Regions from separate parts of the Homo sapiens genome. Here region 2 is linked to region 1. A link means that fine-mapping ties the variant in region 1 to the plasma level of a protein whose gene starts in the linked region. Region 1 holds a variant in brackets. A gene starts in the other region. All regions are shown on their reverse strands.

Region 1 (15,866 bases):
AGCTGGCATTTCAACCTTGGTCTGCTCCAAATCAATGCTTTTCCCACTATACGCAGGTCTTTTTAACCGTATGGCTGGAGTTCAGTCACCTAGAGTCTGATCACGGTTTACAGCTAACCTGCTGAGTGAACACTGCTGAGCTGTTCTATTCTCCAGAAACCCATCTCCCCAGATGTTAACTGGAGATGATACATGGTCATCCTACCTGATGAGAAATCAGGGATGTGATACAGAACACAGAGTAAAAGCACCTCAAAGGTGAAAGCTACAGGACATCACTACATGTAGAAAGGGATCCAGTTAAGCTGGAAGTACTGGGAACTGCAGTTCATCAAAATTTGCATTCTTCAAGCCTTTGGGGCTACTCATGTTTGAGTTATCAAGTAAAGGTTTAAGGCCATCGCATAAAGACACTCCTTACCCACTCCGGATTAGATCATAAGTCAAAGACGTGAAGTCATTGGAGTATGGTGATGCCACGCAGGTGTCCACAAACAAGGTCAGTACAGCATCAGAATGGAGGATTTCAGCCTGAACGTACAAGTCCTGGTTCAGGTCCACGTAGTAAGGGCGGCTGGTCACAGGATACAAGAAAGATGAGGAAGTATAAAAGGAAATGTTCACGTCAAAATTGCCATACTGGACTTCCTCGACCTGGATGGTGTTATTAGCAACGTGGATGGTGTCATTAGCAATGTACATGGTGTCGACCCAGGTGTTCTGAAGCATTCTGCAGCTGACGTGAATACGGAGGTCTGTCCTCCTCTTGATGATGCCACCTGAGACAGCTGCTGTGAGGAAGTTGGAATAGTCGATGGTGTCATTGTCTGCCTAGGAGAGGCAGGCAAGAGAGCAGAGTCAGGCACATGTCACCTGCTAAGGGAATCCCATAGCTGATTTGGGTGTGAATGAGAGGGACGTGACTCAACAAGACTTCCACCCCTCCCAGAACCACTCAGAGATGGCCATGGCACGTGCCTATCCTTTGGCTATGAGCCAGCACAGGGTGCCAGAGCTTACACTCTGGGTCCAGGTCTGGGGAAGACCCACAGGAAGGGGTTCTACCTTGTCCACCTGCTCTTAGCGTACATTTTCTGACTTTAAACTGTCTTAAAAATTTGTTTTTGCTTTATATTTCAGTGCCAACAGTTGTCACAATAAACCGTATGACTTAAACCATACGACCGCAATAAACCCTTTTGTCAGGCCTCTGAGCCCAAGCCTGCACATATACATCCAGATGGCCTGAAGTAACTGAAGAATCACAAAACAAGTAAAAATGGCTGGTTCCTGCCTTAACTGATGACGTTACCTTGTGAAATTCCTTCTCCTGGCTCAGAAGCTCCCCCACTGAGCACCTTGTGACCCCCGCCCCTGCCCGCCAGAGAACAACCCCCTTTGACTGTAATTTTCCACTACCTACCCAAATCCTATAAAACGGCCCCACCCCTATCTCTCTTCGCTGACTCTCTTTTTGGACTCAGCCCACCTGCACCCAGGTAATTAAAAAGCTTTATTGCTCACACAAAGCTTGTTTGGTGGTCTTTTCACATGGACGCACATGACAGTATGACCCTTCTTACTCTTTCAAAGATGCTCTCAAGTGCTTTCCATTGAACCCTGTACATTAACATGATCATTTGCATGGATGTCACATTTGCCTGTGGTGCCTACGATGGAGGTAAATTCTGAATCCACTCCAAATAATGAACATGGAGTGCAGATTTATTTCTTGGTCAGAAGAAGCAGTTCTAATTTTAGATAAAAATTCACTATCACAGGCCAGCCTGGTGGAGCTGTGGGAAGCTCCAGCCATGGATGGCACAGCCCTACTTCTATGTCTTAGACCCGCAGCTCATGGCCATATGGTTCTGGGCAAGTGGCTTACCTTCTGCAAGCCTCCGTTGCCTCATAATTAAGTGGGAATAAAGTTGTCCTGAGAATTTTAAAAGTTATATAGCACACTTAGTTCAGTGTCTGATATCTGTATGAGCTGTTAATAATACTATATCAACTCTTAGGCTCAGGACCAGGGGCACTGGGGGTTGCAAAGATGAACAAAACATTGGCCCTGCCCCTGAGGCACTCAGTGTGATAGGCAATATGGTTATTTAAAGAAATAGAGGAGGCCAGGAGCAGTGGTTCATGCCCGTAATCCCAGCATTTGGGAGGCCAAGGCAGGAGGATCACTTGAGCTCAGGAGTTCGAGATCAGCCTGGGACACATAGCAAGATCCCACCTCTACAAAAAAAAATTTGTTAATTAGCTGGGTGTGGTGGTGCATGCCTATAGTCCCAGCTACTCTGGAGGCTGAGGCTGGAAGATTGCTTAAGCCCAGGAGTTCAAGTCTGCTGTGAGCTATGATGCACCCCTGCCTGGGCATCCAGCCTGGGCAACAGAATGAGAACCTGTCATTAAAAAATTAAAATAAAATAAAAATAAATAAATGAGTGGAGGAATAAGAATGTGGCGTGTGCTATTCATGATCAGCCAAGTTAGAAGAAACAGGGCTGACAGAGTTGTCTGGCCGCTCCAAACGGGTGTGAATGGGTGTGAACGAGTGTGAATGGGTGTGAATGGGTGTGAAGGGCCCTCAGCGGGGCCGCTCAGGGAGTCTCCAGGCTGCTCACTTGGCATAGGAACAATGGTCACCTTCAGTGGACTGACTTCCACTGACCAAACTCACAGCAAGCCAGAACCCAACACAATTAAGGCCAGGCCTTCACTGGGGGAGTATGACAAGGACCAATCACAGCATCTGCCACTTGTAGGGTGACTAACCGTCCTCATTTGCCTGGGAGTGAGGGGTTTCCTGGAACGTGGGACTTTCTATGCTAAAATCTGCAAAGTCCCAGGCAAACCACAGAAATCGGTGGTAGGGGCTGTTGAAAACTTCAGTATAATCATAGTTGCAGCCACCTTCAAGCCTGTAGAGAAGGGACACACCATATTGGCTTCACTTTCACCCAAAATTGGATGCAGGGGGCCATCTTAGATGGTGATAGCTCAACAAATGGTAGCTGCAGAGGCCAGCTGACTATGGAGCTAATGAAGCTGAAGCTTTTGGGCCCCCTCTTCCCTGCCTACTGCAATGTGCAGGCCTCCTCCAAGGCCTAGCAATGTGTTTGCACAGCCATACGTTTTTGCAAAGTTTATAAAAGTTCATAGATATTGCATTCTTTGACTTAATGAGGCCCCTGCCCATCTCAACACCTGCCTCTCACCCCCAACCCTAACTGTATAAGCTTCAGGCCCTGCAAAATCTGGAGCTGCTCCAGGAGCTGCTGTTGTTATTGCTGATGGGAGTGGCGGTCTGCCAGAAGCCCTCTCTGCTGGACACAGCTGGAGATACTCTTTCTGCTCAGCTTCCTTCTTCCTATTTGGAAGTAGCTGCAGCCATATCATAGCACCAAAGGTTTTTTATCTTCCTTTATTCCAATTATGTCCTGATTATCCCAAAATCATAATTTCTTCATCCCCAGAATTCAAGAAGCACAGGACATACCGCTCTAAGAAAGCTTGTGCACTGGGAAATGGAATGGGAAGCCCCAGGCTTACCTGCTTGAAGGTGCCGCAGCCTGAGTAGGGAATTGTGAATATCACCAGGTTCGGCGTTATCTGGGGCCGACACTCGTAGTATCCATTCCAGGTGGAAATGACAAGGTCACTGGCAGAAAAGCCCAAGGATTGGAGATAGCTCCTGCTCACACTGGCTTGCATGTGATTTGGCAGACAGAGCAGGTCTGATAGACAAGGACAGATAAGGCACTCAGTCACTGCCCCAGACTCCACAAGTCCTACGGGGCCAGAGGCTGTTTCCACTTAAAAAGTGCACAGACCAGGGTGGCTGACAGGGAGGGTCAGCACTTAGGATGTGGGCATAGACCTCACTGCAATCCCCCAAGGACCCGAGGGTCAAGTCAGCCCCATCCTTATGAAAGCCCAAGGAGAGCACGTGGACTCAGGATTTCTCTGATGGAGAATTGGAGGCAGGATTTTTAAATAAGTGGTATGTTTGGCCAAGTTACCATTTATCTATAAAGTAAAGTAACTGTATGATCAAATTGTGGGAATGTCATGAAACAAGGTCTTTTAGCCATGAAGCAAGTCAGTCTTTAATCCTGACTGCATAAGAGACCCTGGATGTCACCTTGCCTGGCCCTTGGCCATTCTACATATCAGTCCATACAGCAACTCAAATCATGGCCATACAGGCTCTGCTGGAAGTGTCTGAGTGACCTTATCTCAGCCACTTCCAGCCACCCAGCTCAGTCCATCTTCAGATAGAAACCAAATGTGTTAGGTCTCAGGCCATGGCCACAGTGTCCCACACTCTGAGAAGGTCACAAGGTTTCAAGCCAAGAGGTCACCTCTGCCTTTGGCACTGACTCATCACTCTCCACGAAGAGCATCATCTGGGACCCTCTACTTAGTCTCTGCTGACCACAGTAAGACCAATCATCACCCATCAGCCAGTTCTAGCCCTGACTTTATTTCTGGGCAGCCAGAGTCCCAAGTCCCACTGCTCCTGGTCCCTTTCAGCTGAAAATCAAGCCCTGGTGACCTGAAAGGGTTCCTTCATTTCTTATTTCACAACAACAGGACAGTTGAGCCACAGATGCTCTCAGGATGTCCCCAGTCCCAACAGAGCATTTCCACAAGGGGACTTACTGGTGCTGTCATTGGAGGGACTGGAGTAGTACTCAGCCCGGAACCCTCTCCTTGTGATGCTGTGGTCACTGATGAAGCGAATGGACATGAAGTTGGAGGAAGAAGTGAAGGAGCCTCTGGCCCCATCACAAACTCGAGCAATGAGAGGGGAACTGCGGTAGGGGCCATCGAAAACTTCAATATAATCATAGTTGCAGCCACCTTCAAGCCTGCAGAGAGAGGACACACCATTTGGCTTCATTTCCTCCCAGAATTTGACGCAGGGGGTCAGATCTCAGGGTGGGGTCACACCTCTGTGCCAGAAACTCTGACAAAGTTCATCGATGAAAGTCATAGGTCTCCTTGGCTGGGCGCAGTAGCTCACACTTATAATCCCAGCACTTTGGGAGACCAAGGCAGGTGGATCATCTGAGGTCATAAGTTCGAGACCAGCCTGGCCAACGTGGTGAAACCCTGTCTCTACTAAAAATCCAAAAATTAGCCGGGCGTGGTGGCACAAGCCTGTAGGGTGAGGGAGGCTACTCAGGAGGCTGAGGCAGGAAAATCACTTGAACCAAGGAGGCAGAGGTTGCAGTGAGCCGAGATCGTGCCACTGCACTCCAGTTTGGGCGACAGAGTGAGGCCCTGTCTCAAAAAATAAAAAGAAAAATAAAAATTGAAACAAAAGAAAGTCATAGGTATCCTTAAATCAAGAGAGTCTCATCTTCCCTCAACCTCCATGCCTGGGTCTTAGTCCTGCCCTTTGCAATCACACATATGAAATCTACAGCCCCTCACCTGTCAGCCCTTTACATCAGGAAAGGAAGGGCTCGCATCCTGATTTAGACCATTTTTCTTCCATCGAAAAGTCCCTAGTGCCCCCACAGAATAAAATCAATATGCATGAATTCATAGTGAGAGAAATAAATAATTGAATAAATAAATACTGGGCAAGTCAAATAATCTCTCTAAAGCTTTTCCTATTTACAAAGGCAAAGTAATCTGATCCATGCACACTGAAGAGGGCTATGGTGAAGCTCAAATAAAACAACATACAGAAAAGGGCTTTGTAAAATGTCACAAATGGTGATGGTCATTGCTATCAAGATGCTGGTTAAAGAACCAGTCATGGTCAACCTTTTCCCATAGGACTGCATCAGCTTTAAGTGCAATCTTTGTATTGTAATGACAAAGAGAATAAAATGATGTATCTTTTGCAAAATCCCAAATGAATCACTAAAGCAGAGACTCCAAAGCCCACTGCAAACAGAAATCAACAGGGAAAACTATTTTGTTCAACAGTGGCTGTTAGAGAAGAAATTAGTGTAGCCCCTTGTTCAGGACACTAGCAAACACTGGTGCCTCTTCACAGTTAGCTGGGCCACCCGCCTCCTTGGATAAATCATATATTAATGTACTTTTGACATCAGGCATGGTGGCTCACACCTGTAATCCCAGCACTTTGGGAGGCCGAGGTGGGAGGATAACCTGAGGCCAGGAGTTGAAGACCAGCCTGACCAATATGGTGAAACCCCGTCTCTAATAAAAATACAAAAATTAGCCAGGCATTGTGGCGTGTGCCTGTAAGCCCAGCTACTTGAAAGGCTGAGGCAGGAGAATCGCTTGAACCCGGGAGGCAGAGGTTGCAGTGAGCCGAGACCGTGCCACTACATTCCAGCCTGGGTGACAGAGCGAGACTCCATGTCCGGAAAAAAAAAGAAAGAAAGAAAAAGAGAGAAAGAGAGAGAGAGAGAGAGAGAGAGAGAGAGAGAGAGAGAGAGAGAGAGAGAAGAGAGAGAGAGAGAGAGAAAGAAAGAAAAGAAAGAAAGAAAGAAAGAAAGAAAGAAAGAAAGAAAGAAAGAAAGAAAGAAAGAAAGAAAAGTGCTTTTAGTAATGTCCTCTCTGCTTAAAACGATGATTTCTACTTATGATTGGATGCAGAGCAGATACCCTACCCTCTGGAGCAGCAATTCCTCCATCTCTGCCCGACCCCTGGGGAACTCACATGAAGAAAGGAATGGGTGGAGAAAAAGGGTTCCACAAAACAGATACAATTGTTCTTTTTGTTTTGTTTTGTTTTCCTGAGACAGGGTCTCGTTTTGTTCCACAAGCTGGAGTGCACTGGCGCTATCATAGTTCACCACAACCTTCAACTCCCAGGGCTCTAGCGATTCTCCCACCTCAGCCTCCTTAGTAGCTGGGACTACAGGTGCAGGCCACCACACCCAGCTAATTTTTGTACTTTTTTGTAGAGATGGGGGGTCTCCCTATATTGCTCAGGCTGGTCTTGAACTCCTGCATTCAGGTGATCCTCCTGCCTCGGCCTCCCAAAGTGTTGGGATTACAACCCTGAGGCAGCATACCTGGCCAGTGTGGTTGTTAATAGGATTATTAGTGCTATTATTGCCCCTAAGTCTATCATTACTACTTAACAACCATCTTTTCCACTGGACAACATTTTGTAAATATTTTCACATCTCTCTCCCTCTCTCTCCTCTCTGTTTCTCGTGACCTTCCCAGTAAACAGTGAGGTGAGGAAAGCAGGTATTTTATTCCCCTCTTTTGACTGAGGCTCAGGAAAGTTGAGTGACTTCCTGTGGTCACACAGCAAATTGGTGAAAGACCTAGGACTTGAAACCAGAGCTTTTGTCCACTCCAAGGCTCTCGTGCCCCCTCCCCAACTCTCCACGGGATGCCTCTGGGCTAGGTCAAAAATGTCTCTCAGCAAACTTCTCTCCTGGCTTTCTAAGCACCATTTATTCCCTCTTGAAAGGTCTGTGGGGCCCCAAGGCATTCTTCTGGGCGCACACTTAAGCACCATTTATTCCCTCTTGAAAGGTCTGTGGGGCCCCAAGGCATTCTTCTGGGCGCACACTTACTGGACATCTCTGAAGATCACAGTCACACGGTAGTTGTTTTGCACCTCAATGTCCCACACACACTTGGCATTGTTTGGATAGTTCCCGGGATAGAATGGGCTGGAAAAGTCCCCTGATGGTTGGGATAGGAAGCCTCCGCAGGAATAATCTGCTGTCAGGACAAAAAGTGGGAATGTCGGTGACCCCCAGAGCACACTGCACAGTCTACCTGCGGACTACTTTAAATTTAAATTACTTTAAAATTTTATAAAATAATTCCCAAGACAGAAACCAAGTAAGAGCAAGAGGTGGCCTAGATCTGGACCGTCCACTGAGGGCTGGCAGGGCACTCTTGCAGGGAGACCACTTTGGGGGAAGCCATCTCCTCCCCAGCCCCATTGTCACTGAGGAAATGGGAAGGGGAATTTCCAGGCCACTCTGCCACAGACTTGTCAGGGAGCTCAGAACTTACTGTTTGGACGGGTGATGTTGAGAAAAGGAGCTGTTGACAAAAAGAAAAGATCAGGATCAGTTTTCTGGCATCCCTGACACAGCTGTCGACTGCTCATGAGCTGTGCAGATGCTGTGCCAAGCCTGAGTCCACAGGGAGGAGCTGGACACAGGCCTTGCCCTTGGGGAGCTCACTTGCCTTTGGGGAGGTCTGGAGGAGAGCGAATCCCAGCACACTGGGAAAAGGATGAGATTGACCAAAGCCTGGGGAAGGAGAGGAGCCTGGAAGTCTGGCCCCTGCCCCAGATGGAGTGGGGAAAAAAGGGCAGTAATTAGGGGGCAGGCAAAGAGGTAGAAACGGGGTGTCCCAGGCAGAGGAACAGCAGGTGCAACTGCACCTGGGTGGAATAGATTTGGGAACCTCCGTGTAGATGGAGCAGGCAGAGGATGGGGAGAGGGCACCAAGCATAGGGAGCAGATCATGGGGAGCCCTGGCAGTCATGCTGTGCTGAGGAGCGGGGTCATCACCAGAAGACCCTGAGGAATCTCTTGAAGGGGCTGCACAGTGGAGAATGGATGGGAGGGCACAGGCCTGAAGCTGCTGCTATGGGAGGCCAGGAGGGGATGACAAAGCAAGCAGGGGGCGGGGCAGTGGGGGGTGTTGGAGAGGTGCCAGGGCCATGCTGGGAACACTCAGAGCAGCTCAGGGGCAGGCAGGGAGGAGCTCTGCGATGCAGTGGGCCCCATTTGGCCAACACTGGTCAGGGTCTGGTGTCTGTGAGGACAGTCAAATCTGACAGGTGGCGGGCCTCACCTCGGGACTGACTGGAGATCCTAATCTTAGGTGGGTCAGGCCACTGAAGCACAGAGAGGGGCACACTATCCTGGTGGCCGGCAGGGGAGGGGACAGGGGCTGTAGAGGATGGTACCACAGATGAACTCCTTGGAGAGTGAGCAACATGCCCTGCACAGTCTAGGCAGCAGTAATGGAGAGACCTGGAGACCAGGGAAGTGGAATGGAAATCGGAGGGACTTACCAGGTGTCGATAGATGGTTTCCTGAAAAAGGAATAGAAAAAAAGCATAGGTCACAGACATGTGGCTTGGAGGAGGGGCCGGAATGAGACAGAGATACACTTACATGGCCCATAACCTGACCCCCCTCGGCGAGGGTCCCCAGGTCCACCCAGCAATTGCTATTGAGAAGCCTTCCCAGCTTCCCCAGATGCTCCCTAAGTCCCGTCATACTTGTGGTCATCAGGATTACAGCTGAGGTCATAACACCCATCACTCTCTCCTTGACCATGATTGTTCTAAAACCATCCCAATTGTCACCAGTAGCAAGTACTATCATAGCCACCCCGACTCAACAGTCAAGGAAACTGAAGCATAAAGAAGTAAAATCATTGCTGGAGGTCCTTTAGTCAGATGAGTGTTCAGCATAATGGCCCTGGGTCCAGAAACTGGCCAAAGATAAAGCAGCCCCCTGCATGCTCTTCTGGAGTGCGCAGGCCACGAGGACACAATGACCAGCTCCTGCCTGGGCCACAGACACCATCAGCCACTGGCCTTAAGCTCTTGCTTTATAGCAAGTTACAGGTGAAATGGGCCTTCCATGGCATTGGGCCATACCTGAGCAGATGACACCAGCATCTTCACGATGATTACAGTTGTGGGAGAACCAGCCTCGGTTCCGGCACTGCCAGAG[A/G]GTGGATTCCGTCCCTGAGCACTCTACATCGTCCAGGGTGATGGGGCCAGAGCCAGAGCCAAAATATGCATTTCCAAGGGCTGAAACTGCACGTCCACACCCTAGCTGTCTGCAGACCACCTCAGCTTCCTGAATGGTCCAGGAGTCATCACAAACTGTCCCCCAGGTGCCACCATGGTAAATTTCTACACGCCCGGCACATAGACCATAGGATGAATTTAAATTGACCAACCTCAAGGTGGCATCTGAAAGACACATTAACTGAGAGATCATGGCCATGTCCCACAACAAATGTCCCACAACAAACCTCAAAGGCCAAGCATCCCACAGGCCTTTTCCCACCTCTAAAGTCGCCAAATAGAAATGTGGAAAAGCTGGGGTGGAGGTACTGGACCGCTCCATGCAGAGCTGAAAGGGGCTCTAGACATCGCCAAGCTCAGATCCCCTCACCTCCAGACGGAGAGGGGTGGCTCTGAAGGAGAGTCACCAGGTCCCCTGGAGAGTTGGTGGCAGACCCAAGGCCAGGTGGAACCCCCAGTCTGCACCCTTTGCTGCCTTCCCAAGGGCCTGCCCACACAGTCAGTGCCAAGAGAAAGAGAATGGGCCGTGCATCGCTGAGGCCCTTCTTTGATTTCCTTGGGGAACCATGGTGCCCCCAAAGAGGCAGCTGGGTAAATCCACCAAGCCTCATAGGCATGGTCTAGTGTGCACTTACCGCTTGGGAAGGAGTTATACCAAGCCAAAAAGCCAGTGTTTTGGAAACTGATGTCACTTCGAAAGTGAATGGTCATTCGGTTGTAAGAAGATGTAAATATTTGCCTGGTATCATTACAGATTTTCCCCAGCAGGAGACTGCTATTCAATGATCCATCAAAGATTTCAACATAATCAAAACTGCAGTTATGGTGTGCCTCCAATCTGTATGGAGAAAATGTATTCAAGTCAACATTGAAATTCCTATTGCCCCTCCATTTTATAAATAGTTTGCACTTTACGAGGGATGCCATTGAATACAGGTTTTTCTTCTAGCTCTTCCTCAATTAAGTCAAAGGACATCAGTGTTCCCTGATGCTTTATGGTAGGAATCAAAGCCACCAAAAGCTTGTCCATGGCACATGAGAGTGAAAAGCATCCCAGCCCAGGACACAGTCTAAACCAGTGGGTGTGCTGCAGAGGAACTCACCCCTCACCAGATGACCAGGCATTACTTACTTCAGATTACTGAAGCCCAGGTTTATGCGATAACCAGAATTCACTTCTATTTCCCAAACACACTTAGCATTGTTGGGGTAGTATGCAGGGTAGGATGGGCTGGAGAATGTCCCACTGGCATAGAATAAGAAGCCACCACAATTTGAAGAGGGTCCTAGAGAGGAGAGAGGGGACATCTCCATTGTACCAGGTCTTCAGGTATTTTGTGACAAGGAATCATCTGTGTAAGTATCATCCAGTTTCATCTTCTGCACTTTATAACAAGACTTAACTTTCCCTGTAAACAAGTCCCCTCTCTTGGGCCTGGTTCTAGGTGGCCCAACATTAGAAGCTTTGATTCAAGTCCCTGCTTTCCCTGTTAGGCCTGGACAGCAACCCTCTGCGAGGAGGTGACCCAAGCTTCAGAGGGAGCATGTGTCACCTCTAGCAAAAATGCCAAGAAAGCAACAAAGTGACAGCTATCATTGTTCAATCAGCTACAGACAGGGACGTGGGATAGTCCTGGCTGAACACAGTGCTGACCCGTGGAGAGCACTCCATAACACAGTGTGTTCCCTAGCGTCTTCCATGAGCACAGGACTCTGCCAATTCACAAGTAGCACAACGTTGGGTTAGGAGCAGGGTTTCTGCAACAAGAAGCCTGGGTTTGCATCTTGGCTCTGCCTCTATCAGCTCCATGATCTGGAGCCAGTTACTTAACCTCTCTGCCTCAGTTTCCTCATCAGAAAAATGAGAGTGGTAATGGCATCTGCCTCATCTGTCTGATGAGGGTATTAAATAAGATATGTATATATGAACATTTATACATAAACATAAGATAGGTTTCTATGTCTATATAAACTCTTAGAGAGTGCCAGGCACATAAGCACCCAGCAATATTAGCTATTGTTATTTATCAGAAAAGGATAAATATTAAGTGGTCAAACATTTTGTTGGTTGGTTTATAGTAATAAAAACTTTTTAAAAACATGTGCACACTCAGTGATAGAAATTAAAACGTCTTTTTTTTTCTTTTTCATAACTCTTTGTTTACTTTTTCTAAGGGGATAAGTCCATGGTTTTTAGCATACTGAGAGCTCTGAAATCACCACAGTCAATTTTAGATTATTTTCATCACCCCAAAAAGAAACCCTGTACTCATTAGCAATCACTCCCCATTTCTTCTCAACACCCTCCATTCCTGGCACCCACTGATCTACTTTTCTGTCTCTATAGATTTGCCTATTGTGGACATTTCATATAAAACAAATTGTACAATATGGTAGTTTTTTTGACTGACTTCTCAATGTGTTTTCAAAGTTCATCATGTTGTAGCATAAATCAATATTAAATTCTTTTTTTTCTTTTGTTTTGTTTTGAGATGGAGTTTCGCTCTTGTCACCCAGGCTGGAGTGCAGTGGCACGATCTCAGCTTACTGCAACCTCCGCTTCCCGGGTTCAAGCGATTCTCCTGCCCCAGCTTCCCAAGTAGCTGGGATTACAGCCGCCCACCACTATGCCCAGCTAATTTTTGTATTTTTAGTAGAGACAGGGTTTCACCACGTTGTCCAGGCTGGTCTCGAAGTCCTGACCTCAGCCAATCCGCCCATCTTGGCCTCCCAAAATGCTGGGATTACAGGTATGAGCCACCGCGCCCGGCCACTATTAAATTCATTTTTATTGCCAAATAATACTCCACTGCATGGACATATCATATTTGTTTCTCGATTCACCATGATGGACATTTGCATTGCATTCACATTTGGCTACTATGAATAAAGCTGTCCTGAACATTCACATACAAGTTTCTGTATGGACATATGTTTTCATTTCTCCTGGGTATATACCTAGGAATACAACTGCTGGGTCATATGGTGACTCCAGGTCTAACCTTTCGAGGAGCCACCAAACTGCTTCTCAAAGTGGCTGTACCATTTTACATTCCCTGCAGCCGTGCATAAGGTTTCCAATTTCTCCACATCCTCATCAACACTTGCTATTATCTGGCTTTTTGACTACAGCCCACCTACTGGGTGTTTCATTTGCATGACCCTGACGGCTAATGACATTGAGCATCTTTCCAATGCCTTCTCTGCTATCTGTGAATCTTCTGTAGAGAAATATCTTTCAGGTCTTTTGCTCATTGTTCAGTTGGGTTATTTGACTTTTTATCATTGACTACAAGAGTCACTTATATATCCTAGATACAAGTCCCTTATGAGATAGAAATACGTTCTCCCATTTGATGGGAAGACAGTGTTTCTTGAAGATCATGTGGCCTGCCCTCCCTTTCTATTTCTACACTGGGAAATAATTAAGGATAAAGTCAAACTTTCAGAGACAAGGATACGAGTTACATATTTCTAATCATTAAATATAAATGGTTATAAAATATGCTATTGTATATAGTCACTTAACATTATAAAATATAATTGGAAACAATGTTTTTGCCCCACAATTAGTAACCGTTTAACTAAATGATGATATATCTATACAGTGGAAAATCATATAGTCATTAAACCTTCTTCTATACAAATAATTTCAATGTTATAAAAATGCTAATTTTAAGGTCATGAAAAAAGTATTATATACACTTAAATGAAAATGATGGGTTATACAATGGGATATAAAGCATGCCATACTGTGTGTGTGTGTGTGTTTGTGTGTGTGTATACAGTGTATGGAATGTATGCCAAAATGCCAACAGTAATTATGTATTTATTCATTAATTTATCCATTCATTCATTCACTCATTTATTCCTTCAATAAACAGTTCTTGAAAGGCAGACACAATGCTAGATAATAAGGATACATTATGAAAAAGGCAGACATGGCCCCTGCCTTCAGGAAATGCAGTTTGGCAGAAAAGATAAACATGATCTTTTGCAAATATATTTCCAATTAGCTAATTCTCAAGATTAAAATCTTTCTGCAGCCTCCCTACCTTTAGGATAAAGATGGGAGTCTTAACCCACCCACAAGGCCCTGAATGATCTGGCCTCACCCGACAGATTTCCTGCAGTCCCTCCTTGCCCGCACCCCACCCTCCTTCAAAGAGCCAAGCTCCTTCCCACCCTAGGGCCTTCAAAGCATCCCTTCTGGTTAGAAGACACTTCAGCAAATGAACCTGCTCCTCTATTAACTCCCAGCTTAAATGTCACTTCCATAAGGAACTTCCCCTAACTCCCCAATCAAGGAAGATCTCTACTAATACTTCCTCTTTGCACACTGAACTTTTCCTTGGAAACAGTTGTCACAACTGTAATTTTCTAGTTTGTTGTGTACAAAATAATATTGTGAGCTCTGAGGAAGAAGATCAGTTTGTCTCTTACATCATTCCATAATTTTACAACCATTCTTGATGGTAGTTTGACCATACACACAGCAAGATCTTAAAATACCTAACACAGTAAAAGTTAATATGCATGAAGTACATTCTATGTACCAGGCACTACAATGACATTGACTTTGGTCCAGTAAACCCATTTATATCCTAAAGGAAAAATTAGTGAGGTATGCAAAAAAATTATCTATAAAAATATTCTTCATCACAAAATCATTTACAGTAATGAAGAAATACAAACAAATATCTAGCATCTGATGATTTGTCAAATAATTCATGGCATATCTGTATAATAGAATACAATACAGGGACTTAAAATGATTGTGAGAAAAGATTTAATAACACAGAAAAGTATCCCTATTATTTTTTAAAAGCAATGAAAATCTATTGAAACATAGCCATATGGTGAAATAAAAATGACATGGAAAAGCATAATTTGTAGTAAAATTATCCATTTACTATTTGTCTCCCTTCTTCCTCCTAAAGCTTTGGAGATACCCCCCAAAATAAAAGCCTTTAAGTCTATTATTTTAAGAATACTTATCTCATTGATTCAAATGAAGAGGTGAAGGGTATAGTGGGACAGGCCAGGGCTATGTGCAGATTGAGGAAGGCTGGGGTGGGGCAGAGCATTCGCTCATGGATAGCCAAGCTTGGGGATAAGAAATGTATGACCTATGGTTCAGGTAGAAAATGTGATACCTACTTGCAGTGGTTGTAGTTGTTGGATGCCACCAATCTAGAAAAAAAAATGAAGCTGTTTAGGATTTTAGTAGATAATTTTTCCATTCCATAGTAATTTGTTTGACTGACAAAGTTAAATCCTTTTCCTTAGTACAGGACTTCTCAGAGCCTTGACCATTCCAGTTTACACTGTTCATGGCCAGTAAGGTCTAGAGTATGTAGCACCTCCCAACATATTTGGCCCAGGATATTTTCACTGTGGCACAAAAACGCTTTGCGGATGGCTCCCTCAAAGTGAAAGTATTCTTTATTTGACAAATACGTGCAGAAGTATTACTTGGCTATGTTTCTAAAATGAAGGTCCTAATTTTCCATGGGTTAATTTAGACAGTTATTTTCATCTGAAATAATGGGAGGACCAAAGCCTCCTTCCACAGCAGCATCTCTGCCAGCACTTAGCACTATCAGCAGGCAATAGCAGGAGGCCACAGGGGCCCTCCACGGTGAACCAGACATGAGAGTGATGGCAGTGGGAACTCAGCTCGTCACCCTAACAAAGATCAGAGTCCTCAGAGAGAAATTACCCCCCCAGGGGGAGTCTACCCTACTCCTCCTACTTCTGGAAACAAGAGAGGGTGGAATTCCCAAGAGAAATATTGCTGGACTGGGGTGTAGCAGACTCACCTGTCGTAGTAGAATTTATTTGGGTGGCTGCAAGGAAAAGAAGAAAACATGAGTCAGTCCCAGTGCCCAGGATGATGAGCGAGAGAAATGCTGAGTGCCTGTCCCCATCTCATCACTTAGAAATGCTCCCCAAGAGTCATCCAGGAGAGTGGAATAGTAGATATAAACCTTAACGGTTAGTCTCAAAAAAAGATGTTGGAAGAATTCATTCTTACAGCCTGAAAGTAGATTGAACCCTTGTTTGCTATAGGAACCTACATAAGAAAGAAGCTAGTGCCTACCCATAAAATTCAAAGACG
Region 2 (15,866 bases), not on the chromosome of region 1:
GCTGCTAAAGGCCCTCTCCATGAGCCTTTAAAACCTGCACAGCCTATTACTCAACCTTTCCATCTACTCCAGAAGGCTCTCATCTCAGCCCCCGTCCTCACTCTCCCAGACCTCACCAAACCTTTCTCCCTCTATACCGACAAACAGTGTGAAGTTACACTGGGTGTTCTAACCCAGTCTAAGGGACCCACCCTCCAGGTTGTTGCCTACCTCTCTAAACAGCTTGAAGCCACAGTTCTCAGATGGCCTGCCTGCCTCCGAGCATTGATGGCAGCTGCTGCCCTCACCCTTAAAAACCTAAAACTATCTCTCCATGCCAACCTAACAGTTTATTCAACCCATAACATCAAAGACATGCTAGCTCACCACAGTGTACTAAGTCTCATCTCTGCCCCACAGCTCCTCCAACTGTATGCTCTATTCATAGAAAGCCCCCAAATCACCATGCTAACCAGCTCCCGTCTAAACCCGGCCACGCTCTTACCTGAAGCTACAACCACCCAAGACCCTACACACTTCTGTTTGAACACTATTCAAACCTTTCTTATACCTTTTCCAAATCTAACATACCAATATCTTCCAGATGCCTCCTTTACTTGGTTTGTAGATGGCAGCTCCTTCCTACATCAAGGACGCCGGCATGCTGGCTATGCTATAGTGTCACCCCCACACACACTATTGAAGCCAATCCACTCCTCCTAGGCATCACCTCCCAAAAAGCTGAACTCATCGCCCTCACTCGAGCTCTCACTCTAGCAACCAGACAACAGATCAACATATATTCAAATTCTCATTATGCTTTCCACATAGTATACTCACACTTGTCCATCTGGAAAGAACGGGGTTTCCTAACTGCCAAAAATATCGCTGTCATAAATGACTCCCCCATCAGCAAGCTCCTTCAAGCTGCCCGGCTCGCACAGAAAGTTGCCATCATTCATTGCAGGGGCCACCAAACCCCAGACAATCCTATATCGGTGGGAAATGCTTTAGCAGATCAGGTAGCCAAACAAGTAGCCCTACAACCTGTGCAAGGCCGGTTTCTGTCCCTGTCCTTGTTCTCTCCTCTTTACTCCTCAGAAGAAAAGGAGGACTTCTGAGCCCAAAACCTTCAAAAGCAAGGAGCATCATATGTCAAGGAAGGGCGCTTCGTTCTTCCTCACTCTCAAAGTCTTCCTCACCTCCAAATCCTCCACAACTCTTTCCATGTTGGTTACAAACCTCTCTTGCAACTTCTCTGTCCCATTCTCACTTGTCCTCACCTTTCCAGCCGTGTTTGAGAAATTACCCAAACCTGTTCTATCTGCCACTTAGTGTCACCTCAGGGCTCCCTCTGGCCACCGCCTTTTCCTACTCACCAAGACTGGGGCCAGATACCTAGGCAAGATTGGCAAGTAGACTTCATTCACATCCCGCCGGATAAACGGCTCCTCTGTCTTCTAGTCTTTGTCTGTACTTTCTCCGGGTAGATAGAAGCATTCCCAACAACTTCAGAAGGTGCAAATATCCTCACACTAACTCTCATCATGCATGCAATTCCCTGTTTCGGACTCCCAACATCCATCCAGTCTGATAACGGGCCCGCCTTCATCAGCCAAATTACCCAAGGCATCTCTACATCCTTAGAAATAAAATGGGCCCTCCACACACCCTACAGGCCTCAATCTTCAGGCAAAGTTGAAAAAATTAACTCTGTCCTTAAAGCCCAACTCACCAAGCTGGCTCTAGAAACCTACCAGTCGTGAACAAAAAAAATCTCCCTTTTGCCCTCATGAGACTCTGCACGACACCAAAAGCACCCTCTTTTTATAGTCTCTTTGAAATCATGTGTGGCCAAACTTTTGTCTTAGGGCCTCTACCCTTACCAGACTTTGAGCCATCAGGAATTACCTCCCCTCCTTAATCCAGACACGGTGTTTCATTCGTGAAGCAGCAAATGAGGCCATGCCTCTCCTGTAGACACCTCCTCGTCCTCTCAACATAACTGCATTGCAAGCACAGACATGTTTATCTGCCAACCTGACCCCCACCCAAAAGCTGCAACCAAAGTGGACAGGCCCCTACACTGTGATACTCAGCACGCCAACTGTAGTGAGAGTCCAAAGACTCCCCCACTGGGTCCATCGTACCAGCGTCAAGCTCACCCCCAAGAATACTCCTTCCTCCAAAACATTAACAGTGGGCAACACCCTCGGAGTCACTGTATACAATAACCTAAACAAAGAAAAATGATCCTTGAAGATAGGAGGAAGCCAAAGATGGCAAGGGGATGAATGGCCTCCACAACAGGTCATGGAGTATAACTGTCCTGCCACTTAGGCTGAGGATGGTTCCTGAGGTTATCGCACTCCTATATATATGCTAAATAGAATAATTAGACTACAGGCTGTTCTAGAGATAATCACTAACCAAACCACTTCAGCCCTGGAAATGCTCATGCAACAACAAAACCAAATGCACGTGGCAATTTATCAAAACAGGCTAGCTAGCACTAGACTACTTATTAGCAGAAGAGGGTGGAGTCTGTGGTAAGTTTAATATCTCTAATTGCTGTCTTAACATAGACAATAATGGAAAAGCGGTTCTAGAAACCTCTTCAAACATAAGAAAAGTAGCTCATGTACCAGTCCAAAGCTGGAAGGGATGGGACCCAACAAACCTTCTAGGAGGGTGGTTCTTTAGGATGATTTAAAATGCTGGTAAGGACAGTAATCTTCATCATTGGACTCCTCCTGTTTCTTCCTGTGTTATCCCACTGATAATAAAAGCCATTAAAACTCTTGTTGAAACTACAGTTAACTGCCAGACAATCCAGATGATGCTCCTGCTACAATGACACTATAGATACTAACCCGTCTCTTAAGAATACACCAAAAATTAAATTTTTCTTTTTCCAAGGTGCCCATACCACCCCTATGTCACGCCTGAAGTAGTTATCCCTTTTCCCTTTTCTATAACCAAATAGACAGGAATGTAAGATTCTCTCCAGGGCCTGAAAGCTTAAGGAAATGAATAACTCCTCCCTTCTCAGGCCCAGTCCCAAGGGTGCAAGGCTATTTGCACCAGCAGCGTGCACCAGCAAGATAGCAGAAGCAGGAAGAGAGCCAGCTGGAAGACACGTACCCCTGAAGATCCAGAAAAAGGCCATCTGGGTACAACGTAGCAGTTATGTCAGACTAGGACACTTCTTGTTTACAGGAGACTATAAAACCTTTGCCCCTTCCTCACTTGGGGCTGAAGCCATTTTAGGCCTCAGCCCGCCTGCACCCAGGTGCTCATTAAAACAGCATGTTGCTACACACCATCTCCTGTTGTCTGTTGGCACGCTCTCGGGGTTTGAACCGATACAAAAACCTTACAACGAGGACTCTAAAGAACAATTCCCATTTCCTTAAAAACACGTACACACACACACAGAGGATTGTGATGCTAGCGTGTGTAAAGGACAAATTAACTTGCAGGGTAAGGACTGGGTGCTTAGTATCTTAAATGTATTTTTTTTTCAAGTTCTTCTTGTGGGGCCTCTGGCCATGGCCATGATCAATGGGTGGTTCTATACTGAAATTAGGCCTCAGAGAGCTAGACTGGTTGAATGTGGAAAGAAATAAAGAGAAGGAAACTAGCAGGTTTCATTGAGCTAAGAAAATGAATGCGAAGCAAAACTTCTTGCCTTTGAATCTAGCTTCAATGTAGAGTAACTGTTTGATCTTGGGGAAGTTGCTTAGCTCTGCTCTTACCTTCAGTTTCTTCATATGTGATATATGGTTCCTCCTAGTACCCATATTACAAAGTTGTCATGTGGATTAAGTGGGTGCCTATTTGTTAAGCATTTAGAATAGTGCCTGGCATAGAGAGCACATGATGAAAATTTGTGTTAAATAAACTGAAGCTTTCCTGTGAAGCAGAAGAGGCTAATTTATAAGGAAGTTTCTTTACATCTGCACAATACAGCGGACCATGGAAAATTCTTGGGGCATATGGTACTCCTTCAGCTCCTTTCCTTTCCAGTCTGAAGTTTGCAGACAGGCTGTTATTCACATGCCTGCCAAAAGTTTTAAACAAAAGAGAGATTCTGTCTCCATAATAAGTCTAAAATCTGTTAAAAGGTGGAAAACAGGGAACAGCAGATAGAAGATGGCCAATAGCGCTAAAAATAAGCCATAGTCTTGAAACTCTCTAAGCTTTATTGAGGCGTATCAAGAAATTGCCCCCATTTGGGGATATACTAACACTAGTTATCCAGTTTACCCCTTTCCACCTATGTGAAGACTAACAGAAGAAATAGATAGGAAAGGCCTAAAATCAGCTTCTTAGAACTTTGTAAAACTAGTTCAGGGGACAGGACCTTCAGAATCCTGAGGACAAGGAGATAAATCTTAAAGGATTGGGAAATATGGCTTCCTTGACAAAGGCATCATTTTGGAACCAAAGTGGCTGCCAGTAAATGTCCTCAATTTTACTACCTGGCCTGTGGAATTTGGTCAGTAACCTATGTGAGCAATAACGGTTAGTTATCTAAACGGGCATACAGCTATTGGGGCAATAAACATTTTATGAGAGTTGCGTCAACTGTTATTTGTTTTAAAATGCTTTCATATCGTGCTAGCCACAATGTGTTTTATTATATATTTGAAAGTATTAGATCTTTTGTACCTGAAAAGTCATTGTCTAGTTGAAGTCTTCTTGATGTAAAGAAAAACTCTCATTTAAAAAATTACCACAAATAATTTTTTTGTATTAATTTTTAAAAATTGGCCCAACAGAGTGGCTCCTGCCCATAATACCAGCACTTTGGGAGGCTGAGGCAGGCAGATGGCTTGAGCCCAGGAGTTTGAGACCAGCTTGGGCAACATAGTAAAACACTGTCTCTACTGAAAATACAAAAATTAGCCTGGCGTGGAGGTGTGCGCCTATACTCCCAGCTACTCAGGAGGCTGAGGCGGGAGAACAGTTGAGCCCAGGGGCTCAAGACTGATGTGAGCCTTGTTTGAGCCATTGCACTCTAGCCTAGGTGACAAAGAGAGACCCTGTCTCAAAAATAATGATAATACTACTACTACTACTAATAATTGCTCGTTTGATTTTGGCAAGATAAACTTATGGTAACAAGCATACTAGATTTCTCTTTTCTTCATCCCTTTCTAACTCTGAATAATATGATTGAAATTCTTACAGAAAAAAAAACTCAAATCTTTCTCTGGTTGTAAGCTTTAAAGAAAATTATTTTTAGAAAATGCTGAAATAAATTAGAGTAGTTTGACAAACACTTTTGAACCTGTTAGACTAAACAGTATTAACCTCTGTCATCTATGTTTAAAATGATTATTATAAAGGGACAAAATTATATATTCTCCAGGAAAACAGTAATGTAAACGGTAAAAAGATCCCTGTTCAAAGTTTCCCTTCTTGTTAAAGAATAAATCATAAGTGTTAGAAATAATAGTTTATTTTAAAGACGAACTTCCTTCAAGCCCCCTCGCTTTACGCTAATAACTCTTTGTTAAGCCCTATCTTATATAGCTGTTGAACAGTCACAGGCACGTAGTACATTCCATGTCCTTGTACCTTAACCAAGATATTTGTGTTGGACGTGCTCATAGGTATGTCCTAGTTCACAGCCTGTGCCCCTTCCTTATTTGGAAATATTATTATTTTTGTACCTATTTTAAAAAGTTTTAAATTATTAGCCAATCAGGTTTTAATTTAGATTGTGAGGTCTGGCTCCAGCCAATGGAGACAGGACACAGCAATAGGGACCTCATGCGTAAGGAATAAATATTCTGGTGTCTCTTCATTCTGTGTATGCCCTTGCCATTGTTCCATCTGTGAGGGGCATCCTTTCTGCAGAAATTAAAAATTGCCTCGCTGAGAGAACTTTTTGTCTGAATGCTGACTTTTCCTTGCAGAACTGAGAAACAAACATTTTGCATTTCTAATGAGTATGAAAATTTTTTGTATAGTGTTTTATTACGGATTTATTTTACTTTAAACTACATGTGAATAGATAAAAAAATATAAATAATTAGCTTTTTTAAAGCACATATAAATATTATTAGTTTGTAAATTTTTGCAACTTTTAAAATTCATTTTGTTTATATATGCTTTTGAAATGAGCTCATGTTTATATAAATATATTTAGTTTATTTAATTTAACTCCTGTTAGTATTTCAAAATATATTATTTTGTCATTTATCCCAATTGATATAGCCATCCTTATTTCTGTGAACATTTTGGTTAGTTTTTCAACTGAATTTTAAATTCCAGATTTGCTCTTGTTCCCTGATTCTGAATGGGTATTTAATGGGAATTTCAGTAAGCTTTTAATTTCACATCACTATCTGTAACTTCACAACAACAGACAATTGACTTCAAACCAACAACTTCATATTCCATTACTTTGAGCTTACTTAGGCATCAGCTCCCTGCAGTTCCCACCTGCTTGGACTTTGAGAACATCTGTATCATGCTAGCTACTTATGCTGAAACCTTGCTGGAAACGCTGGCTTAAATTTACGTAACTACTAAACCTTGTGATGTGGTGTGGCTCTGTGTCCCCACCCAAATCTCATCTCAAATTGTAATCCTCATAATCCCCATGTGTGGATTGAGGAACCTAGTGGGAGGTGATTGGATCACGGGAGTAGTTTCCCCCATGCTGTTCTCTTGATAGTGAGTGCATTCTCACAAGATCTGATGGTTTTATAAAGGGCTCTTCCCTCTCCACTCTCTCTTGCTCACCTGCCACCATGTAAGACATGCTTTGCTTCCCCTTCGTCTCCATGATTGTAAGTTTCCTGAGGCCTCCCCATCCTCAGGAAAGTCTGTGAGTCAATTAAACTATGAGTCAATTAAACCTCTTTCCTTTTTAAGTTACCCAGTCTCTGGTATTATCTTTATAGCAGTATGAAAAGGACTAATACACCTTGCCTTCTGAAGTAGGTCTTGAGAGGTTCCTGAACCTGAAAGGGAATGGAGAAATGACTTAAAGCCACCAGCTAATTGGGCTTAATCATTTGGACTCAGTTGACTCTTCCCCTACCCCTACCCATGCCTAAACCAAAGAAAGGATCATCCCACATTTACCTAGCACAAAGAAATCTACTCTTCTGCTCTTTCTAGGACTGCTAAAGGCCATGGGAACTGGACACCTGGATGCTGCAGAGGAAGAGCAAAGCTCAACATCAACTTGGACAGTTTGCCAACCTGTTTGTGGTAAGTTGATGTCATTTGTGACCACTCCTAATGTGTGCCAGGAATAAGCTATTCCTGATGCCAGAATCTCTTACTGTCAGTGCCCTCTGTAGGCCTTCTGATCCTTACTCCTTGCTCCACCCATTGTTTATATCATGTAGTTCTCTCTCAGACCCTGATATAAAGCTCCTACTCTGTCTGACCTGACAAGCCACCTCAAGTGGACAAGGCACTTACCAACAGGTAAAGGGGCATTACAGGAGAAGAGCATGTCTAACGTGGGATTTTCTCTTTTCATTTTGAGGTAGATACAGGGTGATTTTCTGAATAAAAGATCCCAGTAGTAATGAAACTTAAGCAAGACCAAAGCTGATTTCGGGTAATTTGGCCTCTGTTATCCCCAAACCAAAAGAGAAATATCTGGGAGTGTAGCTATCTCAGTGGACCTTTCGGCTCACAGGAATTCAGAGAGGAGAGGATGTTAGAAAGATAACAGGTGCTCTGCTCTCTTCTTCAAACCCTCTTCCCTGTGTTCTCCTACAGAGATTGCTGATTTGCTCCTTAAGCAAGAGATTCACTGCCGCTAAGCATGGCTCAGACCAACTCGTTCTTCATGCTGATCTCCTCCCTGATGTTCCTGTCTCTGAGCCAAGGTGAGATTTTCCCCCACACTTCCCACAACCCCAACTCTGAATTCTTCCCTCCATCCTCATGTATAAGGTTCACTTGAAAAAAAGCAGAGTCAACATCAGGGTTTTTTTATGTTGTTCAGTGATCATTATGGCTGATTTTATCCCATTCAAAAACACCCTCACCTCATTCATGGGTTTGAGACAGAATTTAATAGGACCACTTATAGGTGACCATTGTGGTTGAGTTTATCTGATTGAATCTATATGCGATGGCAGTTTGGGGGATGTTTTTATGTAGTCATTGCTAGGATGGAGAGCTAAGGCAAACGTGTGCAGGGAAACCGAGAGAAACTTGAGAAAGGAGGAAGCCTGGGTCTTTAAAGGCAGAAGCCTCAGCCTCAGAATTAAAGGAAAACGAGGACTCATTTATTTAGCCTATTCATTGTGAGCTCTTGTCTTGAGCAGAGGAAACTAGAGAGAAAAGAGATAGGATGCAGGAGGGCAGAAGTGAGCAATCGCCCCAGTATTCACTGTATCCATATGTTCTTATAAAGGACACCAAGAAGCCCCTAATTCACCTTCCAGCCTTTTCCTTGCCCTGCGATTCTTTCTTAATTATCTCCTTTTTTTTTTCCCCAGGCCAGGAGTCCCAGACAGAGCTGCCTAATCCCCGAATCAGCTGCCCAGAAGGCACCAATGCCTATCGCTCCTACTGCTACTACTTTAATGAAGACCCTGAGACCTGGGTTGATGCAGATGTGAGTGAGGAGAGCAGCAGGGGAAGGGAGGCTTATGAAGGTAGAGGCAGCTGCTAATTTGCAGTGTGTTCTGTGGCTGCAATGAGATAAGATTGATCCCTTCCCTATTCCACCACTGGTCCCAAACTTCCCAATCTACTTTATCCCATCATTTGACACATTCCCAGCACAGAGATGCTGGTGGTCAGTGACAGCATCATCAGGGACATTTCTGTGCTGTCCTTTTTCTGTTACATCCTCTGGAAGGTCTCAGTATATCCCTCACACCTTCCTTCTCCACTGAGTGCTCCATTTTCTTCTCCAACAGCTCTATTGCCAGAACATGAATTCAGGCAACCTGGTGTCTGTGCTCACCCAGGCGGAGGGTGCCTTCGTGGCCTCACTGATTAAGGAGAGTAGCACTGATGACAGCAATGTCTGGATTGGCCTCCATGACCCAAAAAAGGTCAGTCTGCAGCCACCTCTATCTCCTTATAAACATTTTTGAGAGGTAAGAGGGACGTTTAAGGTCTGGCACCGCAATCACCAACTTTTATCTTTTTGTTTGTTTAAATAAAAGCAACCTCTTTATAGATCCTATAATGTATGAGTTGTGAAGTTCAGTGTAGGTAGTTAGAGACATGAGCTGAAGGCTGAATTTTCTGGGCTCTGGGAATTCATGCACCCACTCATTGTGTCTACTTCTAGAAATGCATCTTTATGTACAACTTTTTCCCTATTTTGCTATTGTCTGTCTTGGAAGAGGTCCCTCTGTAGACTATATAGAAAATGAGTAGTGGAGGAGAATCTACTGCTGGCATTTGTTATACATTTTATACAAGTGTATAAAACTGTACAGTATATTATTTAGTTTAACACTATAAACTAAATAATATATCAACGACTACTCTACAGCCAATGTTATGCTGGATATGAGAGTTCTGAGATTCAGGAAAAAAATCAGAAACCACTCTCTTTAATGGGCTTTTATGGGTCTCTGTATCAAATTCTGAACACTTATTATTTGCTGGAAGAGGAGGAGGAATTCGGACATTCTAGAGAAGGAGAAGCTTAGAGCAAAAGCAGAGGAAATGATATGATATTCATGGTGACAACAATGTTTATTCTTTCTGCTATAACTTGGCCTGTTTCTGAGTGTGCACACAGGCCTGGTTATTCTATTGATTTTTGAGTGACCATGGCCCCTGTTCTGGCCCTTCTCCATCTAGAACCGCCGCTGGCACTGGAGTAGTGGGTCCCTGGTCTCCTACAAGTCCTGGGACACTGGATCCCCGAGCAGTGCTAATGCTGGCTACTGTGCAAGCCTGACTTCATGCTCAGGTGAGAGGCAGACAATCTATCCACCTGTTGCCATTTCCTTCCCACTTATCTCTGGGGATGAACATGGGGACTGGGATAGAGGAAAGGTAAGCTCCTTATCTGGAAAATAAAGAAGTATTTCCTCTAGTTTTTTGTTCTGAGTCCTAGGTTGAGGAGGGGCTACACTCCTTCTGATCCTCTATGTCTGACACTTCTCATTGTACCATAGGATTCAAGAAATGGAAGGATGAATCTTGTGAGAAGAAGTTCTCCTTTGTTTGCAAGTTCAAAAACTAGAGGAAGCTGAAAAATGGATGTCTAGAACTGGTCCTGCAATTACTATGAAGTCAAAAATTAAACTAGACTATGTCTCCAACTCAGTTCAGACCATCTCCTCCCTAATGAGTTTGCATCGCTGATCTTCAGTACCTTCACCTGTCTCAGTCTCTAGAGCCCTGAAAAATAAAAACAAACTTATTTTTATCCAGTGTTCTGTCTTCTGCATTTGCTCTTTCTACAGCCCATGCTTGGGTGGTTGGGGTGGGAATGATTGTCACACTCCAGAGCTTGCCATGGCCCATCCACTTGTTAAAACCCCACTCACATTTTATGTATGTCAGGCTTATGAACATGTGGTGGCCTTGTTTATGACAAGATAAAAAGATTAAGATTTCATCCACAACACATGTTAGCATGAACCTAGTGTGAATTACACAAATAATTAAATTGTTGATCCAGTCTGACTGGAGTATTTAATATTCCAGAAGAATTCGCATAGTTGGGGTCTGAGGAGAACACATCTGTTCTTGGTTATGCAATTTGAAGTCATGACTGAAATGATAACTTAAGGAGAATTGTCAGGTCTGCGGTCCTGAGTGCATTAGTGGTACATTTTTGGAGGCCAGCCTGCAAAGTTTGTTAAATGCTACTCCTTGGATGAATGAATAAGTGAATGATCAATTATGTAAATTAAATATACAGGCATACTTAATCATCTCTTTAAATATCCTAACTCTCAATAAAGTTAAATTCTGAAATATTACTCTTAGGACTTTCACAAATTAATTGTGCAGGGACACAGTTCAGCCCATAACATCAATCATATCAATAATAGAGTTAAATGTGATTTGATAACAAAGGAAACAAATTGTCATCCTGGATTAAAGTAACAACAATGAAAACAAGATTCAACTGTATGCTATGTATGAGAGACATGAGTTAAATTAAGACACAAATAGCTTGAAAATAAAAGGAAGGAAATAGACATATCTTGCAAACAGAAACCATAAGAACACTGGTTTCTGTACTGTTACCCAGTGTAATGCCTATATGAGATTGCTGAATTTCTACCCTGTCTGAACTCTGCTTATCTTTAAGAAACAGAATGCCTGTGGTAAAAAGTTTCCTTTATAACTAGTCCAGCTGATACTGGTTAGAATCAAGATCACCATCAAAGGACCTCAGAAAGACATCTGGTTCATTATAATCTCATTTCCATGCTAAATGACACTCCTACCAGCACAATGACAGCTGACAATCACCATGACAATGGCCAGAAGAAGCAATAAAGGTACAAAAAGGAAGCACACTCTGGTTCCTAGGAAGTTCACAACCTATTTCCAGAAAAGACATGAATATTCCTCCCTTTGTTTTTAATGCCCAGTCCTTTCATTGGAGAAACCCTATATTTTAACCACTTTACCCCTCACTAGCAGAGAAGCCAATTTGTGAGTCATGTTCCTGCTTCTCAATTCCATGGCCATCAAATAAATCCTGCAGTGCTTGACACTCACTTTCTGTTTCATGTATTGGCTTTGTGACACCAAATAGGGAAAGACTCCATCTTTTGGGGGACTGGTTTTGTCTGCAATGATACTAATATCAGACATATTTGACTTTAAAGCAAAAATGTTACTTGAGAAGAAAAGGAGTATTTTATAATAATAAAGTAGTTAATTCTTCAGGAAGATGTCTCAAAATACCTGAAACAGGTGGAACCCACTGCAGTGTGACAAAGCCGCTATAACCAGACTGCCCCTCCGGATTCCTCCTCTCTGGGGAGGACATCTCTGAAAGAAAGGCAGCAGCCTCAGTCAGGGGCTTATAGATAAACTCCCATCTCCCTGGGACAGAGCACCTGGGGGAAGGGGCAGCTGTGGGCCAAGCTTCAGCAGACTTAACCTTTCCTGTCTGCTGGCTCTGAAGAGAGCAGCGGGTCTCCTCGCACAGCACGCAAGCTCTGCTAAAGGACAGATTGCCTTCTCAAGTGGGTCCCTTACTCCAGTGCCTGATGACTGGGAGATACCTCCCAGCAGGAGTTGACAGACACCTCATACAGGAGAGCTCCAGCTGGCATCTGGCCAGTGCCTCTCTGGGACAAAGATTCCAGAGGAAGAAGCAGGCAGCAATATTTGCTGTTCTGCAGCCTCCGCTGGTGAGACACAGGCAAACAGGGTCCGGAGTGGACCTCCAACAAACTCCAGCAGACCTGCAGAAGAGGGGCCTGACTCTTAGAAGGAAAACTAACAAACAGAAAGCAATAGCATCAATATCAACTAAAAGGACACCCAGGAAAATCACCATCCGAAGGTCACCAACATTAAAGACCAAAGATAGATAAATCCATGAAGATGAGAAAAAAACAAGCGCAAAAAGGATGAAAATTCCAAAAACCAGAAAGCCTCTTCTCCTCCAAAGGATCACAACTCCTCATCAGCAAGGAAACAAAACTGGATAGACAATGAGTTTGATGAATTGACAGAAGTAGGCTTCAGAAGGTGGGTAATAACAAACCCCTCTGAGCTGAAAGAGCATGTTCTAACCCAATGCAAGAAAGCTAAGAATCTTGATAAAAGGTTACAGGAACTGGTAACTAGAATAACTAGTTAGAGAAGAACATAAATGATCTGATGGAGCTGAAAAACACAGCACGAGAACTTCATGAAGCGTACGCAAGTATCAATAGCTGAATCAATCAAGCAGAAGAAAGGATATCAGAGATTGAAGATCAACTTAATGAAGTCAAGAGTGAAGACAAGATTAGAGAACAAAGAATGAAAAGGAAAGAACAAAGCCCCCAAGAAATATGGGACTATGTGAAAAGACCAAACCTACGTTTGATTGGTGTACCTGAAAGTGACAGGGAGAATGGATCCAAATTGGAAAACATACTTCAGGATATTATCCAGGAGAACTGCCCCAGCCTAGTAAGAGAGGCCAACATTCAAATTCAGGAAATACAGAGAAGACGGCAAAGATACTCCTTGAGAAAAGCAGCCCCAAGACACATAATTGTTGGATTCATCAAGGTTGAAATGAAGGAAAAAATGTTAAGGGCAGCCAGAAAGAAAGGCCAGGTTACCCACAAAGGGACACCAATCAGACTAACAGAGGATCTCTCTGCAGAAATCCTGTGAGCCAGAAGACAGTGGGGGCCAGTATGCAACTTTCTTAAAGAAAAGAATTTTCAACCCAGAATTTCATATCCAGTCAAACTAAGCTTCATAAGCAAAGGAGAAATAAAGTCCTTTACAGACAAGCAAATGCTGAGGGATTTTGTCACCACCAGGCCTGCCTTACAAGAGCTCCTGAAGGAAGCACTAAATATGAAAAGGAAAACTGGTACCAGCCACTGCGAAAACATACCAAAATGTAAAGACAATCGACACTATGAAGAAACCACATCAACTAATGGGCAAAATAACCAGCTAGCATCATAATGACTGGATCAAATTCACACATAACAATGTTAGCTTTAAATGAAAATGGGCTAAATGCCCCAATTAAAAGACACAGACTGGCAAACTGGATAGAGTCAAGACCCATCTGTGTGCTGTATTCAGGAGACCCATCTCATGTGCAAAGACACACACAGGCTCAAAATGAAGGGATGGAGGAATACTTACCAAGCAAATGGAAAGCCCAAAATAAAAAAAAAAAAGCAGGGGTTGCAATTCTCATCTCTGATAAAACAGACTCTAAACCAACAAAGATAAAAAAAGACAAAGAAGAGCATTACATAATGGTAAAGGGATCAATGCGCCAAGAAGAGCTAACTATCCTAAATATATATGCACCCAATACAGGAGCACCCAGATTCATTGAGCAAGTTCTTAGAGACCTACAAAGAGACTTAGACTCCCACACAATAATAGTGGGAGATTTCAACACCCCACTGTCAATATCAGACAGATCAACGAGACAGAATATTAACAAGGATATTCAGGACTTGAACTCAGCTCTGGACCAAGTGGACCTAATAGACATCTAGAGAACTCTCCACCCCAAATCAACAGAATATACATTCTTCTCAGCACCACATCACACTTATTCTAAAATTGACCACATAATTGGAAGGAAAACACTGCTCAGCAAATGCAAAAGAATGGAAATCATAAGAGCCTCTCAGACCACAGTGCAATCAAATTAGAACTCATGATTAAGAAACTCACTCAAAACTGCACAACTGCATGGAAACTGAACAACCTGATCCTGAATGACTACTGGGTATATAATGAAACTAAGGCAGAAATAAATAAGTTCTTTGAAACCAATGAGAAGAAAGACACAATGTATCAGAATCTCTGGGACACAGCTAAAGCAATGTTTACAGAAAAATTTACAGCACTAAATGCCAACAGGAGAAAGCGAGAAAGATCTAAAATTGACACCCTAGCATCACAATTAAAAGCACTAGAGAAGCACGAGCAAACAAATTCAAAAGCTAGCAGAAGACAAGAAATAACTGAGATCAGAGCAGAACTGAAGGAGATAGAGACACAAAAATCCCTTCAAAAAATCAATGAATCCAGCTGGTTTTTTTGAAAAGATTAACAAAATCGATAGACCTCTAGCCAGACTAGTAAAGAAGAAAAGAGAGAAGAATCAAATAGACACAATAAAAAATGATAAAGAGGAGATCACCACTGATCCCACAGAAATACAAACTACCATCAGAGAATATTACAAACACCTCCACACAAATAAACTAGAAAATCTAGAAGAAATGGATAAATTCCTGGACATATACACCCTTCCAAGACTAAACCAAAAAGAAGTCAAATCCCTGAATAGACCAATAACAAATTCTGAAATTGAGGCAGTAATTAATAGCCTACCAACCAAAAAAAATCCCAGGACCAGATGGATTCATAGCTGAATTCTACCAGAGGTATAAAGAGGAGCTGATACCATTCCTTCTGAAATTATTCCAAACAATAGAAAAAGAGAGGCTACTCTCTAACTCATTTTATGAGTCCAGCCTCATCCTGATACCAAAACCTGGCAGAGACACAACAAAATGAAGAAAATTTCAGGCCAATATCCCTAATGAACATCGATGCAAAAATCTTCAATAAAATACTGGCAAACTGAATCCAACAGCACATCAAAAAGCTTATCCACCATGATCAAGTCAGCTTCATCCCTGGGATGCAAGCTTGGTTCAATATACACAGATCAATAAATGTAATCCAACACATAAACAGAATCAATGACAAAAACCACATGACTATCTCAATGGATGCAGAAAAAGCCTTTGATAAAATTCAGCACCACTTAATGCTAAAAGCACTCAATAAACTAGGTATTGATGAACTACATCTCAAAATAGTAAGAGCTATTTATGACAAACCCACAGCCAATATCATGCTGAATGAGCAAAACTGGAAGCATTCCTTTTGAAAACCAGCACAAGACAAGGATGCCCTCTCTCACCACTCCTATTCAACATAGTGTTGGAAGTTCTGGCCAGGGCAATCAGGCAAGAGAAAGAAATAAAGCGTATTAAAATAGGAAAAGAGGAAGTCAAATTGTCTCTATTTGCAGGTGACATGATTGCATATTTAGAAAACCCCATCATCTCAGCCCAAAAACTCCTTAAGGTGATAAGCAATTTCAGCAAAGTCTCAGGATACAAAATCAATGTGCAAAAATCACAAACATTTCTATACACCAATAATAGACAAACAGAGAGCCAAATCATGAG

Direction of the effects. Positions count from the first base shown, and alleles are read on the strand shown. Strength reflects both the effect of a copy and how common the allele is.
For the plasma level of the protein whose gene starts at base 7,400 in region 2, allele G in region 1 goes with a higher level than allele A (weak association).

What was found. A credible set is the group of variants that fine-mapping cannot tell apart. PIP is the chance, under the fine-mapping model, that this variant and not a neighbour inherited with it causes the effect. Protein levels are from antibody-based Olink assays in UK Biobank. Linkage for the fine-mapping came from a reference panel and not from the study's own genotypes, which makes the PIPs less certain.
Region 2: REG1B starts here. The variant in region 1 is the best candidate, but not a certain one, in a credible set for the plasma level of the REG1B protein (UK Biobank, PIP 0.64).

What each region holds. Positions count from the first base shown.
Region 1 is chr10:122,625,005-122,640,870 of GRCh38, reverse strand. It overlaps DMBT1 (deleted in malignant brain tumors 1), which reads right to left. Exons shown (of 56, transcript NM_001377530.1): 45 at 15,568-15,594; 46 at 14,906-14,938; 47 at 10,878-11,031; 48 at 10,381-10,583; 49 at 9,590-9,910; 50 at 8,996-9,016; 51 at 7,981-8,010; 52 at 7,530-7,680; 53 at 4,672-4,880; 54 at 3,559-3,743; 55 at 422-831. Among named protein-coding and RNA genes, the nearest start is that of SPADH, 40 kb to the left of the region's middle. RefSeq lists an enhancer at 330-1,529. The variant A/G (reference allele first, on the strand shown) is at 9,666.
Region 2 is chr2:79,079,527-79,095,392 of GRCh38, reverse strand. REG1B (regenerating family member 1 beta) reads left to right here and starts at 7,400. Exons shown (of 6, transcript NM_006507.4): 1 at 7,400-7,434; 2 at 7,735-7,844; 3 at 8,463-8,581; 4 at 8,889-9,026; 5 at 9,790-9,901; 6 at 10,110-10,370. The coding sequence starts at 7,781. The coding sequence ends at 10,177.